2 separate regions of the Homo sapiens genome follow, and region 2 is linked to region 1. The links come from fine-mapping of genetic effects on gene expression. Tissue or cell type: nasal epithelium. Region 1 holds a variant in brackets; the other region holds the start of a gene. All regions are shown on one strand. Distances are from middle to middle.

What was found. PIP is the estimated chance that this variant, and not a neighbour inherited with it, causes the effect.
Region 2: it holds the start of MYCN, and the variant in region 1 is fine-mapped to the expression of MYCN in nasal epithelium (TOPMed, PIP 0.97).

The regions. Positions count from the first base shown.
Region 1 is chr2:15,886,826-15,895,015 of GRCh38, reverse strand. No RefSeq gene overlaps it. Among named protein-coding and RNA genes, the nearest start is that of MYCNUT, 29 kb to the left of the region's middle. RefSeq lists an enhancer at 4,037-4,658. The variant C/T (reference allele first, on the strand shown) is at 3,651.
Region 2 is chr2:15,937,246-15,945,418 of GRCh38, reverse strand. It overlaps MYCN (MYCN proto-oncogene, bHLH transcription factor), which reads right to left and starts at 4,869. Exons shown (of 3, transcript NM_005378.6): 1 at 4,676-4,869; 2 at 2,565-3,471. The coding sequence starts at 3,354. It overlaps MYCNOS (MYCN opposite strand), which reads left to right and starts at 3,734. Exons shown (of 4, transcript NR_110230.2): 1 at 3,734-3,887; 2 at 4,322-4,445; 3 at 6,694-6,919. RefSeq lists enhancers at 4,741-5,271, 6,316-6,873.

The sequences.
Region 1 (8,190 bases):
AATAAAAGTGTGGTCTTTCTACGGATCAAGTCCTAAACACTCTGTAAGAGTTATTCTTTTATCCCATCCTGCTGGGTCAGCCACTTTTCATGTGCTGGTCCTACACTTAGAATTAAAAAAAAAATTCAACTAAATTGTTTGTTTGTTTGTTTGTTTTAAATCACAGACGAATCCCTATCAGACAATAGACAAAAGAAATATGTAAAGCTTTGAAGCAGAGACAAACAAATCATTAGGGATCTTGCTTTGCAAGTTTTAAAATAAGATACATATAACTGTCCCCACTGAGTGACTTCAAAACAAAGCCTGCAGTATCAATCTTGATAACCTTCAGACGATTTTACCTTGCAGGTTTCAAACCAAACAGTCATAAAGAATTTACGAGAGGCAGTTCTGACTATGAGGTCTGAAGCCAACTGTTGCCGAAACAAAACGTGGTTGGGGAATTTGTAGGGTGAGCATATCAACCAAATGAGCACACTTCTGCAAATTCAAGAGGGTGAAATTGTCATGATACGAGGCAACAGGCAGAAATTGAAACTAAGAAGAACTGGGAATTATAATTGACGTATGAATTTTGCTTCTTTCTAAAGGCAGTTCTGTTTGAGAGGCTATGTGGTATGAAAGAGTGATGGAATGTGGGGATTGGATGTGCCCTTGGAAGCCGACCACCAATGCAGCCACCTCATTGCCCGATGGGGAAGCTGAGGTGCAGACTGGGGAGGGCCTAAGCTGAGGCCGCACTAAATTTGTGCCAGAGGCAGCTCCTAACTAATGATCCAAGGCTAAATGCCTTTCAATGATTGTTTTCTGCAAAAGAAACAAAATCCTTTCACCAAAGGCCATGCAGAGGCCACTAAGGCATTCAGACAAGAAGCAGCATGCAGAAGCAGAGAGAGACCTGTCAGAAAGCCTTGGCTTGCATCCCAGCTTTGATTCTGGCTTTTTGACTTGGGAGCAGTCACTTAACCACTCTGAACATCAGTTTCTTCATCTGTAAAGTTGGCAGATGAATTATTATTCAGATTATACATTGACTTTGCTTTTGCATCGTGGTAATACACAGATAACGTAAGATTTATCATTTTCTCTATTTCTAGGTGTACAGTTGAGTGACATTAAGTGCATTCACATCGTTATGCAACCATCACCACCATCCATCTCCAGAACTTTTTTATTTTCTCAAACAGAAACTCCATACCCATTTAAAAAACAACTTCCCATTCTCCCCTCTCCCAAGCCACTGGCAACCAACATTTTTGACTTTCTGTCTCTATGAATTTGCCTCCTCTAGGTACATCATATTAGTGGAATCATATAGTATTTGCCTTTGTGTGTGTGTGTGTGTAGCTTCTTTTACTTGTCATAATGTCTTCAAGGTTCATTCATGTTATAGCATGTGTCAGCATGTAATTAGCATGTAATTCCTTTTGAAAGGCTGAACAATATTCTATTGCATGTACGTACCATATTTTGTTTATCTATTCATCTGTTAATGGACATTTGAGTTACTTACAGCTTTTGGCTACTGTGAATAATGCTGCTATGCACATAGGTGTGTAAATATTTGTTTCAGTCCCTACTTTCCATTCTGTTGTGTGTATACACAAGAAGTAGAATTGCTAGACCATATTGTTGTGCATTGACTATTAAGAGATGCTTGCAGATAGGACCTTGGGCAGGTTATGAAAACTTTTTGAGTGTCCTTGGAATAATAACTCTGTTAGACCCTACCATAAACACCATTTACTATAAGTGATGATAAATAAGATACAGGTTTTTTTTTTTTATTTTTTATTTTTAATTTATGTTTTATTTTTTGAGACAAAGTCTGACTTTGTTGCCCAGGCTGGAGTGCAGTGACACAATCTTGGCTCACTGCAACCTCTGCCTCCTGGGTTCAAGCAATTCTTGTGCCTCAGCCTCCCCAGTAGCTGGGGTTACAGATGCACACCACCACGCCTGGCTAGCTTTTTGTATTTTTAGTAGAGACGGGGTTTTGCCTTGTTGCCCCAGGTGGTCGTGAACTCCTGAGCTCAAGCGATCCACCTGCCTCAGACTCCCCAAGTGCTAGGATTACAGGCATGAGCCACTGTGCCCGACAGCCAGATACAGATTTTTAAAAATGAGCTGGTGCTGCAGGGTTGTAAACAGGCTGGGGTAACCAAAAGCATTTGTCCTTTTGAGTAGGTCTCAGTAGGTCTCCTCTGCTTGTGCAGAATCCACTGTTCCAGAGATTTCACTTCCCTGCCCAAAGTGCCCCTCACTTCCCTCCGGCAGATTGTGCTTCTGGAAAGTTGTGTTTAGTAATATCTTAAACACTCATTATTCAAGGAACCCTGCGGTGGTTCCTTCTGTAAAAGCAAGGCTCTGTTGGTGAAGGAAATAACAAGCTCTAAATGACTCGTAATAAATTAGAGCTTTGATATAAAAAGCTCTGACCTACATGTAGGACTTCACAGTTGACAGAATTCTCTCACCTCTGCTTGTCTGTGTCATCTGGTATTTATCGGGGTGAAGCCGTGAAGGGATCCTTCTCTACAGAAGAGAACGGGTTGAGCATTGCAGTGGAAAATATCACTCTGGAGACCCACGGTCCTGCCTTCAAATTCCTTCCTTTCTACCAACTATGCAATCTTGGCTAAGTTACATCTCCTGTCTGGGCCTCGGCTTTCTTAGCAGGAGAATGGAGACAGTAGCTACCTCATGGGGCTGCTGGGAGGGGTGCCAAGAAGGCTGTTCTGCAAAATCAGGAGCAAGATGTTAATATGAAATCTCAGAAATCATATTCTACAAGTAACTGTTTTTGTGAGAGTGTCAGACCAGCAAAAATAAAGTTATTTTTCCTGCAGAAATGTTAGTAATAAAGGTCTTTTCATTACCATACATTTCTAGCTTTCAAACTACATCCCTAAAGATTACATTGAGCTCCCACTTGCAAGCTAGGGCCTGTTCTTAATAACAAGAAAGTAGAAAATTCTACAAGGAGCAAGATTTTTCAAAAGTGGAAATTGTGATCAGTATAATGTAAATTGTTCCCTAAGCAATGGCTGCCTATATAATCTACAAGATAAAAACTGGAAGTGGTTTTCTCTAGCGAGGGTGGCGGGGGGCTGTCCCTGCCCCACAGGAATCAGGATAACTGCCCTGCCATGTGTTCAGCACTTTAGAATTTTCACATTCTTCAGAATCCCCTAGCACGGTAGGTAGGCAGTGCTGGGACCATTGTCCGCATTTACAGCCTGCAAAACTGAGTTCCAAACGGGTAAAGCCACTTGGCTTAGGAGGCCCAGATGATAGGAGGATAAGAGGTGTCTTCTCTCTCCACCCCAGGCCTGCGGGTCCCAGGGCTAGGGGCGTCCCTTGGCATTCCTATCTCTCTGTCCAGGGCCACCCTGCAGGTCTCCAGTGGGGAACGCTTGCACCCTGCCCAGCTTCAGGCAATGACAGACTGAGGGCAGAGCGGGCCCTTTGGGGGGCTAAGACTGAGAGCTGGGGATGGGTGGTTCTTTCAGGGGGAGACCTAGTTTGTGAAACCATAAAGATCCTGAGTTCATAAATACATAATAACTGTCATTCTAGATGTTTCAGAGCCGATTGTGCAAGAACTGAGGAGGCAGCCACCTGCCTGCAGGCCAGAATGGAATTCC[C/T]CAGTGCAGGAAGCAGCCTGGAGAACAAAGCAACCTTATCTCTGGCGAGGCAACTGACGCTTCTTGGGCTCCTGCCCCCTCCTCTGCACATGGCCTGCTCCAGCCTCTGCGGTCCACCATCTGGGAGCTGCAGCCTGGATGGGGGTGGGGCTCCTCAATTAGCTGGTCCCCTAAACTGGAACATACTTGGAAACACCTAAACATTTGTTGAACGAAGGACAGATTCACCCTTTAAGTCTTGATGATTGCCTCTGTAAAATGGGTATAATAATAGGGCTTCATTTGGTTCAGCTGTGAGAGTTGAGTGAGAAAAATCAGCAAAGCAGCCTGGGAATGTGGAAAACATGCTGCCTGTCGGTGGCGATTCTCACTGTGACTGTCATTACAGTGGGAGCAGAGGGAACAGCTTTATCTTCCGGGTCTGCCCAAGAAGGCCTCCTGCCTTGGTGAGCCCGAGACTGGGTGTGGAAGGAAGCAAAGTACTGGATCTTCTGGAAGAGGAAACAACAGCATGGTAGACGGAGAGGACCGTGGGGGCAAAAGCAAGGAGCGGGAGCAGGATGGCGGGGGTCGGGCCAGGATGGCAGGGTAGGGGCAGAGTTGGCAGCACACTGGCTGCCAGGCCCCTTCCTTGGTCTTTATTCAGAGCCAGAGAGAACACCCCTTCATTGTGGCTTCTCCTGAGGCTCAGTTCACAACTCAGGAGAGAAAGTGTACACGCTGCACACGTCAGCTTCAAACTTCTTGCAGCCAAGAGGCCAGCTCGGATTGGAGTAGGCTTCTAATGCTTAATGTGCATATAAACCGCCTAGGCTCTTGTAAAAATGCAGATGCGGATAGCCTGGGGTGGGCCCGAGGCTCTAACAGGCTCTCAGGGACGCTCATGCTGCTGGTCCTGGTTCAGGGACCACCCTTTGAGTATTGGGGCTGCAGACTAGCAACACTCCTGGTGCCGTGGCTCCCGGGATCCACAGTTGATAGAAAACGAGTTATTGCTACATTGTTTGGCCAGGATGGCCTTCCTTCCCTATGTCTCTCTCTCTCTCTCTTGTGTGTGTGTACGTGTGTGTGTACGCATGCACGCTTTCTCTCCGTCTCCATATGCCGCTCTGCTCCTCTCTGGTTGATCTCTTTTTCTGTGATCCCGCCTCCATCCCTGTCTCTCTGGGTGTTTGTCTCTCTGGCTCACCTCCACGGCTGTCTCGCCATGGGTGTCCCCCTGACTGCAGGGTGCTCAGGCACTGAGTGCCATCTGCCTATCAGTCTGCCTGTCGGAAAACTCCTCTGGGGTCTAGCTGACGATGAGTGCTGTCACGTGGCAGGGAGGGAAGCAGAGTACTAACAACTGGTTGACAGCTGGTCACAGCTGGTGACAGCTTGGGCAGGCCTGGGCGTGGGAAAACACAATTCAGGCAGCAACAGCTGGGACGGGGACCACACTCTGAAGATGAGCCGACAGACTGCCACACAGTATGCGAGGGGCAGCACCCAAGCCCCACTCCTACCAGCCCGGCCACCATCCCTTGGAGTGAAGCAGATGCCAGGGATGGCTCTGAGGCTATCACACTCCTGACATCCATAGCCCCTGCAGGGAAAGGGCCATGGGCAGCTGCTCCCTAGCTCCTGCTCCCACAGAACGTGGATTGTATTTGGGGGGGTTCAGAAAGGGTAAGAAGGAGCGTCTGTGTGCATCCATGAGAACACTCCTGGGAAGCTGCGTGTGTGTGTATATGTGTGTGTGTGTGTGTGCCTGCAGATAGGGCGCTAAAGGAGAGGGGCATTCCATCAGAGAGCTGCCCCAGCTGGAGAGCTCGGGGGCCTGTGGCAGGGATGTCATAGATGAATACAGTGCCTGCAAACAGCACGCACCAAGAAATACAAACACGGGTTGTTATCATCATCTTTATTATTGCTGCTTTAAACACCAACATTTTCTCTTATCCATTTTGAATAGAAACAATTATAAAACGTGCTACAGATGTCCTACTTTCTTAATCCAGGGACACTGAGTATAAGTAACCCGAGAGCATGAACCGCTCCTGGAGAGGCAGGTACAGCCCTGTGTGGGGAACCCTCAGGCGTCTCACTGCAGAGAACCAGGGTTGCCAGAGCTTGGCACAAAGTAAGAGCAGGCAAGCTCTCAGTGAGGGGCCAGGGGCTTTTTAAGCGAGAAAGGATATGGCACTCGGAGGCCACAGCTTTGTTCAGAGGCTCCTTTTCTCTTGTTTAGCTACTTTTGGCTGTGTGTGTGTGTGTGTGTGTGTGTGTGTGTGTGTGTGTGTGTGTGTGATTGAGAGGGAGAAAGAGAGAGAGAATGTGCCACAGACTGGCCACTCCCCAGTAACTCAGATCCAATGCTGCCTGTCCTGGCAACCCAGCCTACCCTGTGCGTCTGTTTCACAGGTGAGGGCTGCCTTCTATGTGTCCTCTGTAGAGACCAAACTCAGCATTTCCTCATTCCCACCAAGGACCTGTGGGAACACAAATGTTGACAGGGGGCCCCGTCACCACTCTGCTTGGGCACAGCCAGTGCTGGAAAGTGAGACCAAGGAGCTATTTGGCAACTCACAAAGTGAAACAAATGTGCTGGAAAGCCTCCTATGGCTCCCCACTGCCTTTAGAGGAAAATTCAAGCAATTCTCCGAGGCCTACCAGGCCACAGCCCACCCCTCTCACATCTCTGGCTTCCAGCCTGCCTTGGCCTACCAGGCTCCCACACTTGCCTTTTTTCTTTTTTTTTTTTTTTTTTTGAGACAGAGTCTCACTCTGTCATCCAGCCTGGAGTGCAGTGGCGTATTCTGGGCTCACTGCAACTTCCACCTCCCAGGTTCAAGCGATTCTCCTGCCTCAGCCTCCTGAGTAGCTGGGATTACAGGTGCCCACCACCATGCCCAGCAAATTTTTTGTATTTTTTAAATAGAAACAGGGTTTCACCACGTTAGCCTGGCTGGTCTCAAACTCCTGACCTCAGGTGATCCACCCACCTCGGCCTCCCAAAATGCTGGGATTACGGGCGTGTTCCATTTCGCCCGGCCCACACTTGCCTTCTTTCATTTTCCCCAAACATCCCAAGTTCCTTCTGCTCACAGCCTTTGCGGTCATTGTCCCATCCACCTGGAGTGTTCTTCACGCCTGTCCCCACCCTGCCTGAGGCTCGCTCATCGTTCTGAGTCAGTGTCGCTCTCTCGAAGAGGCCTTTGCCAGCCACTCTACCCAAATAGGGCCCCTGTGCTCCTCCTGTAACAGTAAGCATCACAATTTGGATTCATTTTGTAATCTCCCCCCCACACCTCCACCTAGACTGTAAGCCCCCGGGGGCAGTCACCCCGTCTGGCTTGTTCTTATCTCGGTCCTAGCATTTTGCCCCCAATATTCAATAAATATTTGTTGACAGAATCAATGAATTACAAACATTGCGCATCTCAGAAGTCCAGGCCTCCCAGAGCATAGAGGCACTCTAACATGACAGAAAGGGAGGTGGATGTCCTTAAGGAAGGACTGGTCACGACCCAGACCCTGAGGGCTCCTGGGCTCAGCTTGCTAAGGAGGAAAAAAATAGTCTCTCTCCTCAAGAAGTCTGTGGCTCAGTGGGGGAGTGTTCCAGTTTCTATGACTGCATCAAATATTACCCCAAAACTTAGTGAGTATGTAAAGCAACCATTTGTGTGCTGATTTTGTGGACTGGAAATTCAGGCAGGTGACAGAGGTAAGAGACTCTGTTATCTGCATCCTCCTTAGCAAGCTGAGCAGAGAAGGGCTCTGCTCCATGATGTCTTAACTAGGAGGAAACTCAAGTACATGGCCTGGGATCATCTAAAGTTTGTTCTCTTACATGTCTGGTGGTTGATGCTGGCTGTTGGCTGGGGATCTCGGTTCCTCCCTATGGGATTCTGCGTGTGAGCTAGTTTGGGCTCCCTCACAGCATGGTGGCTGATTTCAAAGATAAGCATCCTAACACATCCTAGTGGACACTATATTGTCTTTTATGAACTAGCTTCAGAAATCATGAACCTAACATCCACCACACTCTATTCCACAGGCTGTCACAATGTCCCACCCATGTTCAAGGGGAGGGAAAATACATTCTCTCTTTTTTTTTTGAGGTGGAATTTTATTCTTATCGCCCAGGCTGGAGTGCAATGTCGCCATCTCAGCTCCCTGCAACCTCCACCTCCTGGGTTCAAGCAATTCTCCTGCCTCAGCCTCCCAAGTAGCTGGGATTACAGGCATGCGCTACCACGCCCGGCTCATTTTTGTATTTTTAGTACAGATGGGGTTTTACCACGTTGGCCAGGCTGGTCTCGAACTCCTGACCTCAGGCGATCCACCCTTCTCGGCCTCCCAAAGTGCTGCAATTACAGGCATGAGCCACCACGCCCGGCCAGATTCTAACTTTTGATAGGGGGTAGCAAGTTTCTGGACAACCATGTGAGACTGAAAATATTGCTTTGGCCATTTTTGCAAAATACAGTTGGCCACAAAGATGTAATAAATAATAACATAGGATGAAAAGGGACACTAATACCCTCTAAGATTTCCC
Region 2 (8,173 bases), 50 kb before region 1:
GTATGCTTATCTGTCTCTTCCGGCAGACCCTGGCAGACTGCTATTTTTATGGGTCCATCAACATAGATGTGGACAGTTTTGTATTTGTTTTAGATCTCTTTAAATTAAATATATCTGTAGGCCGGACGCGGTGACTCACACCTGTAATCCCAGCACTTTGGGAAGCGGAGGCGGGCAGATCACCTGAGATGAGGAGTTCAAGATCAGCCTGGCCAACATGGTGAAACCCTGTCTCTACTAAAAATACAAAACTTTGCTGGGTGTGGTGGCATGCTCCGGTAATCCCAGCTACTCGGGAGGCTGAGGCAGGAGAATGACTTGAACCCGGGAGGCGGAGGTTGCAGTGAGCCCAGATCATACCACTGCACTCCAGCCTGGGCAACAAGAGCAAAACTCCTTATCAAAAACAAAAACAAAACAACCCCCCATACATACATACATACATATACATATATGTATGTATATATATTTTTCTTCCCCATACCCCAACTGTGCTTTCAGCCTCCATTCAAGACTTTAGCAGGTGGTAGAAATAAATATAAAGAACTTGGCCTTTAGGGTCAGACAGAATCCTGGCTCCACCGCAGACTAGTTGCATGACCCTGGTCAAGTTACCCAGCCTTTCTAAGCCTCTGTTTCCTCAGCTATTAAATGGGGATGATACCACTTTGACAGATAACATGTAGACTTAGCATAGAGCTGAGCCTAGTAGACAGATGCTCAGTAAATGGTAGCTTTTATCATAATCACCAGTCTGCCCTGTGGACTTATTTACATTTCTAGCTCCACACTTAAAGAGTTGAGGCCTCTCATTTTAGGAGCCTCATTTAGCAGTTTACACATGGTTGTGTTTGATTTTAAGTCCTTAAACAAACTTGAGGAACAATTTAATTAACTGAAGAAAAAAAACAACTTTTCGTCCACAAACCTGAGTTTTATACAATAAACAGTTTTTCATTTAACAAAGATCAAATCTTAATGACAAAGCCATAATCCACAGTTGGTATAAACCCCCAAATGGGAGCAGCTCTCCTCAAAGCCACCAATAATAACAGCAACAACAGAAACGTGTAGCATCATGTGCGCATTCTTCCCCTCTCTCCTCATTGACTACCACGCTGGGGTAGAAAATTATTGTTTAAAATACAAGCATGAAAATCAAAACATATCTTCTGCTTGATCTGAAGGGGACCGGAAAGCTGAACAATTGTGGGATTTGTTCTAAAGCCGAAATGTGAGGCTGTTCCAGTCTGTGGGTCCCTTTAAGCCAATGTTTTGGTTTTCTGCCAAGAAGACAGCTGTTGGAAGGAAGTGCTTCCTCACCAAAAGCTGTCAAGGCACAGACATTAAAGGGACAGAGCCGTTTCAAACTGGAGGCTTATCACCAAGTTTCCTTCCAGGAGCCTCAAAGATCTCTCCTCAGCCCAGAAGTAAATTTAGGCTTGTTATCCACCTGCATTCTGAAAACACTGGTTTTCAAAGTCCAAGGGGGGTCCCAGCTCCCTGCTCCAAGGACAAGGCAATGCCACTCTTTGGGTTGAGTTCTGTTCATCCAGACCCCCAGGGAAAGGCTTGGTTTTAACTCTTCCCTTCAGCTTAAGACACAGACAAATGAACACAATAGAACTAATCAGTGAGTCCTCCCAGGATGTGAGCCTTCCTGGAGAGGCTGCTGAGTGCCTGCCCTCACCTTCAAGGGCACTGGGTTACAGATACAACTCACATCTCAAATTAGGCCTGGAATTCAGGCTGGAAGACAAAACTACAGCCAGTTTCCACTGCACACTGGAAAGAGGAGGCCCCCTGAGAATGTACACAACTGCTGTTGCACTTGCAGCCAGCTGCTGAATGGAGGGAGGGAGGGTGCCCCCACCACCCCCAGCCTTTCAGATCCCGGGCCCGCCTGCTGGCCTCGCATATCGCCGCCTGCTGGCCACGCACCAGGAGCAAATAGCCCACCACCCACCGAGGATGGGGGAAGGGAAAGGTACCGACATTTGAAAAAAAAAAAAAAAGAAAAAGAAAAAGAATAGAAAATCGGCTCTAGCCATCTGTGCAACCCTCCTATAAGTTCCTGCGCCTTAAACAGGGCTTTGCACAGCCCTTGAATCTTCTCGGGATGTCTTTCCCTCCCCTGACCTGGGCCAGAGAGTCCCTTTCACCCCTGCGCTAACAGGTTTCTGTCCAGGCAGTGCACCCAGCAACCCCCTAAACCCCCACCCGGTTTAGCCACCAACTTTCTCCAATTTTATTCCTCAGACTGCGCTGCAAAAGAGAGGTGGGGGACCGGGTGAGGGCCCGTGATGGCCTAGAGGAGGGCTCCCCAGGAGAGGGTGGAAGGAACTTTAGTGAAGGCGAGAATTGGAGAGCACCCCTTTTGCAACGGCATTCTCTCAGCCCCTTCTCTTTACCCCGAGGAGAGACTTGGGGGAAACAGGACCTCTCTGCCCCTAGCACTGCCTCCAAAATGCTCCCCAGGCCAAGACATACGAGCACTAACAAAGGGGACGCGACCCGGGGTCCAGTGCCCCAGGGAGGCAGCCGGACCCGAGTTCGGTCTTTACCTGAATCGCTCAGGGTGTCCTCTCCGGAGGTACTGAGGGCCTTGTGGTCGCCGCCGCTGGTCTGGCGGCCGCCTGGGCGCGGAGGGGCGACCCCCGGGGCCCCGGCTGGGGCGGCAATACCCGCCCCCGAGGCGACCGCAGGGCCCGCCGCCGGGGCACTGGCCGGGGCTGCGGGCACGGGCGCTGGCTCGCGCTTGTTCACGGGAAAGGGGAAGACCACGGCGGGATCCACGCACTCGGCGGCCGGGTGGGCGAGCTCGGCGGGCAGGGCGGCCCCGGCGCGGCCGGCTCCCGCAGCCCCGCCGTGCCCGCGACCCGCAGGGCTGGCGGCGCCGGCTCCCGGGGACTGGGCGGTGGAACCGGCGGTTGGCGGCCCGCGGCCGTGCTGCAGCTTCTCGCTCACGGCGCGCTCCAGCTTCTCGCGGGCGGAGAAGCCGCTCCACATGCAGTCCTGGAGGATGACCGGGTTGGGGGTGAGGCCACCCAGTCCCCCCAGGCCGAACGCGTCCTCCTCGGCCGGGCTGCCCCACAGCTCGTTCTCAAGCAGCATCTCCGTGACCCAGCTCGGGGGCTCGGAGCTGTGCTCCGCGAAGCCACGGCTGGGCGACAGCGGGGGCGTGGGCAGCAGCTCAAACTTCTTCCAGATGTCCTCCCCCGGGGGGGTCGAGTCGGGGCCGCCGAAGTAGAAGTCATCTTCGTCCGGGTAGAAGCAGGGCTGTAGCGAGTCAAACTCGAGGTCTGGGTTCTTGCAGATCATGCCCGGCATGGTGGACGTGGAGCAGCTCGGCATCGGCTCGCCTCCCGGCCGGCGACTGAGGGCTTCTTTCCGCCCCGTTCGTTTTAATACCGGGGGTGCTTCCTTCCCGTGGGGGGCGCGGAAGGCGGGGGCCGGCGCCGACCTCCAACACTGCAACCGACAGACACACCGGAGAGGGTGGGCAAACGGGGCAGACCGAGGGGATAGGCAATGGGCGCCCCCTCTAACCAGGTTCCCCAATCTTCCCTCCAAGCCCCCCACTCTGCCCACTGCTCCCGAAGGTGGAGGAAGTTGTGCCTCTCGCTCCCTCCCTCCCGCCCTCCTTTTGTGTACAAGCTGTCTACGACAGGGGGTGGGAGGGGGCATGCAGATGCAGGGGGTGGTGGCGAGGCTCCGCAACTTTGGAAACTGCCATTTCATTCACACAAGGCACTGCCTGGGGGAGGGGGCTGTTCCTGGCTGCAGAATTCTAGCTCTCACGAGCACGCAGACAACCGCACTCGCAGCGGTGTGGGGCCGGCTGCTCAGGGGAAGCCCCAGGCTCTCCGACCCAGCTACCGGGAATGGTATTTGGAGTACCTTCTACCCCCTTTGTAAAAATGCAACCTCAGGAGTGCAAATGATAGCAGGGGATTTAGAAAACTTTGCAAATAAAAAAAAGCCTTTCTCTAGACAGAGACCAACAACAGACACCCATATCCACAAATCCTTCCCCTCCCCAAATTTGAGCAAACGCCCCTCGGCATTCACCCGCTGCAGGGATACTCCTGCCAATAGCTTAATTGGAAGCTCTCTAAGCCCACCCCTGCTCTTCCAAACCCACGACAACGTCCTCTTCCAGGGAGGGAGAGGCTGAGCCCCTGTTCCCGGGAATGGCAGGGGCGCCCGCGCGAGGAGGGTCGCCGGGAGAGCCGCCTCTCCTCCAAGCTGGAGCAGCCGTGACCCAGATTGCGACCGCGGCGGCCTCGCCCTGCCTAATCCCCCCCTCTTCTTCCTCCAGGGGCACCCTTTGGAGAAGAACCCCAGCCTGGGGTGGGGACGCACCGGCTCTCCGACAGCTCAAACACAGACAGATCTTCTAGAGCCGAGGGAATTTCTTTTCGCAGAAGCCATTACTCCCCCCGGTAAGGGCTGCAAAAGGATTAGGGCGGGTCTCCTCTAGCCAGGATGCCTTCGGGGCTGGAACTGGCTTTTCTGGGAAAACCCAGAGATGGTTTTGTTTCGGAAGCAGAAACAGTCCCCCGGGCATATTAGGGCGCCCGGTGCGCACGTCGCAATCCCGTCCAGGGCTTGCCTTGCCCCGGCGCTCGTCGCTTCCCTGGGCGCCGGGCGGTTTGCAAGCCCTGCTCCTTACCTCCCGCCGACTGCAGGGGATCCGGAGGCGATTCTGCGCGGGTGTCTCCGGGTGGGCCGGGGGGGCGGGGGTGTCCTCGGATGGCTACAGTCTGTGCGCGCTTGCGCCTGGCTAGCGCTTGCTCGGCTCCAACACAGTTCCCAGGAGCCCCCCGCATCCACCCAGCGCGTCCAGACAGATGACTGTCACAGCCTGCGCTTTGAAGCTCGGGGGATATTATTAACTGAAAAATCTGACACACCCGGGGGGCGGGGAGAGAAGGGGGCTGTGGCGCAGACAAGGGGGAGGGAGAAAGGAGAGGAAAGCGGCTTTACCCCGCCCTCCTGATTTCCATAAAAATCAGGGGAGGCGCCAAGGCTTTCGCGCCAAAAGCCACTTGCTTTTCTTTGCAGAGAGAAGGCTGCAAAGCTGGGAAGCCCAGGGTGTGCTCCTCCCGCCCTTTTGGACCCCCGGGCTTGCACCGGCTGCACTCTGAGAACCAGCTGCGCGCGGAGCGGTGCAATGCAGCACCCACCCTGCGAGCCTGGCAATTGCTTGTCATTAAAAGAAAAAAAAATTACGGAGGGCTCCGGGGGTGTGTGTTGGGGAGGGGAGACCGATGCTTCTAACCCAGCCCCCGCTTTGACTGCGTGTTGTGCAGCTGAGCGCGAGGCCAACGTTGAGCAAGGCCTTGCAGGGAGGTTGCTCCTGTGTAATTACGAAAGAAGGCTAGTCCGAAGGTGCAAAATAGCAGGGAGAGGACGCGCCCCCTTAGGAACAAGACCTCTGGATGTTTCCAGTTTCAAATTGAAAGAAGAGGGGCGCCCCCCTTGTTTGAAAATAAATAAATAAATAAGTGCGAGCTACGAGGGTGGCGCCGCGGTGGTTTCTTCGGCCGAAGGCGACACCTCGCGGAGACTGAGCAGAAAGCGGAGCTGCCCGGCCTTGGCGCGGACCTGGAGTGCGGCCACTCCGCAGGTCTCCCGCCGCCCCCGCGGGACTGTCCACGCGTCCTCACCACTGCGGAGGAGGAGGCGGCCTGGCTCTGCTTCCTAGGGGGAATGGGCGTACGTTCCCTGCAGCCGTCCCCAGGGCTCCCAAGTTAACCTTTTCAAAGCCACCATTCTCCCCAGTTATGGGCAGGCGAATCTGATTTACCGAGATGGAAGTGCTGTCCACACCTCCTGAGACCCAGCCTCGGCTCAAACAGCTTGATTCCAAACTGTTGAAGGGAAAAAGGAAAGCTGCTGTCACTACTTCGTTTCTTTGTGCCTCAGTTTCCTCAATTGTGAAATGGAGTTCGTAGTGCCTCCTACCTGAGAGTTATGAAAGCTCTTATAAGTCCCCAGCCCATAATAGTTGTGTCAGCTATTATTATGATGATGACCACGACATGCTATTCTTCTGGGGAAAATAACACCCCTCTGTCCAGCAGCAGCATTGGCCCCTTCCCTTCCCGCCACCATCAAATCCTGGCTTTACTTCACTCTGGTCTAGCTTTTCTTACAGGTGTATTTGTTTGCAGGGGGTCAGACATTATTGCCCCTGCCCTCCAAACTCTCCAAAAACAACCCTGATCTCCTGGACAGCCCCCTTCACAACCAAATACACAGTGAGGTGGGATTTTGCCTTGAAAAACATTCCTTAGGCTTGTTTGGAGAGAGGGGAACCTGGCCCTGGGATTGGGGTGGGAAGGCTTCCCCGCCTCTCCCTACTTTTTTCTCCAAACTGGAAATGCCATTCTCCATCGCCCCCACCTCTTCACCTCACCATTGGATCTAGTTAAGGAGGAGGATGCTGAGGGTCAGGGGGCAACCCATAAAATGCTCACAGATTAGCATTTGTGAAGGCCTTTCCAGCCCTGACCCTGGACGCCTACAGAGCTCTAGGGAGAAAGATTCCCAGAGTTCTAGGAAGAGGCCCATGAATGCGGATGAGCAGCCCTTCCAAGCACCTTTATTATTGTTATTTCCCTCACAAATGTAAAAGCCTTCATCTTTGCAAAAGCCTTTTACAGCCCCACTTCTGCTTTTCCCTAGCCCCCTAATCGCCACCAAGCCCTCCTGCTGAATTCTCGCCTAGCATCCTGTCCTTTCCTGTCCAGCACTCACCTCCATTTGTAATGATCCATGCCTGGGAGTATTTGTTTAGTGCTCACTTCCGTGACACTGTGGAAGACAGGCTCAGTCTCCCTCACTAACCTGTGACCTGGGTCAGTTTTGCTCCAGAGGGAATCCTTACGGCACAGCAGTGTACCTGTATATAGTAAGTACTCATGGTATTATTCAAGACCAAGATCACTGAATGAGTCCTTCTAAGGTGGCCAGATCTTCTGTGGCAAGACTGTGAAAATAGGCCAGGATGGGTTCAGTTGCTCCGATTCAAAGTCCTACCTTTGTCCTTTCTCCTCAGATGAATGACCATCACTAGGTCATTCACCCTTTGTCGAGGGACAAGGTGTAGCAGAAAAGGGGGACAGAGGGACAGGAGACCTGGTTACTCTACATGCCTTTGAGCAAATCATTTATACTTCCTGGACCTCAATCTCTAATCTCCTGCTTTTAATGCAAGCCAGTAATTACTGACAAGTCTGAATCTGAAGGTTAACAGAATGATAAAATTCAACAAATATTTATTGGTTACCTTCATTTGTAAGTAGAAAGATAAAAGACTTTGTACATGGAGAAAACATGCTAATGCTGATTCTTAGTCTGCTTATAGAGAAGCCTGAAAATCCCTCTTAAAAATGTTGAAATACTTCAACTATGTGAACACACACAAAACAAATCTTCATATGGTTTCAAAGCCAAGGTTTTGTTCAGTACTGCCATGGTTTGAATGTGTCCTCCAAAAAAAAACACGTTGGAAGTTTAACCCCCAGTGCAACAGTGTTGGAGGGGAGGTCCCCAAATGCCAGTGGGACCTAGACCCCAGCCAGTGTCCAGGCTCTTGACACCATCAAGAGAATGAATTCAAAGACCAGTTGGAAAATAGTGAAAGTACGATTTATTGCAAAGGGAAAAGTACACACTCAAGAAAAGGGAATATGGGTGTACTCGAGAGACTCACACGAAAGGGGGTTTGGGGTTGCTACCTTTACGGGTTTCTTTAACCAAGAGGCAGAATATTCATGATCATTCCTAGAAAAAGAAGGAGATTTCTCAGAACTGTGACACCACCTATTTTTAAACCAAATATGGGTGTTCTCGGAAGTGTCATGATGCTAGTGGGGTGTGTGATTTAGTATGTTAATGAGCGTATAATGAGGTCCTAGGAGAAACCTAGGTCAAATCCAGTGCCATGCTGGGTTCAGTGGGTCTTAGCCAGCTTGGTCTACACTCTGTTTTTCACGGTCTTAGCCCATGGCCTCTGCAGCCATTTCAACAGTTTCCTTTTGCTAGTCATGTGAAATTGCTGCCCAAAATCTTCTATTATTCTGCAGCCACCTTATATTATTCCTGTCTCAGGACCTAATGTGAGGTGTTTAGGTCATGAGGGCTCCACTCTTGTGAATGGATT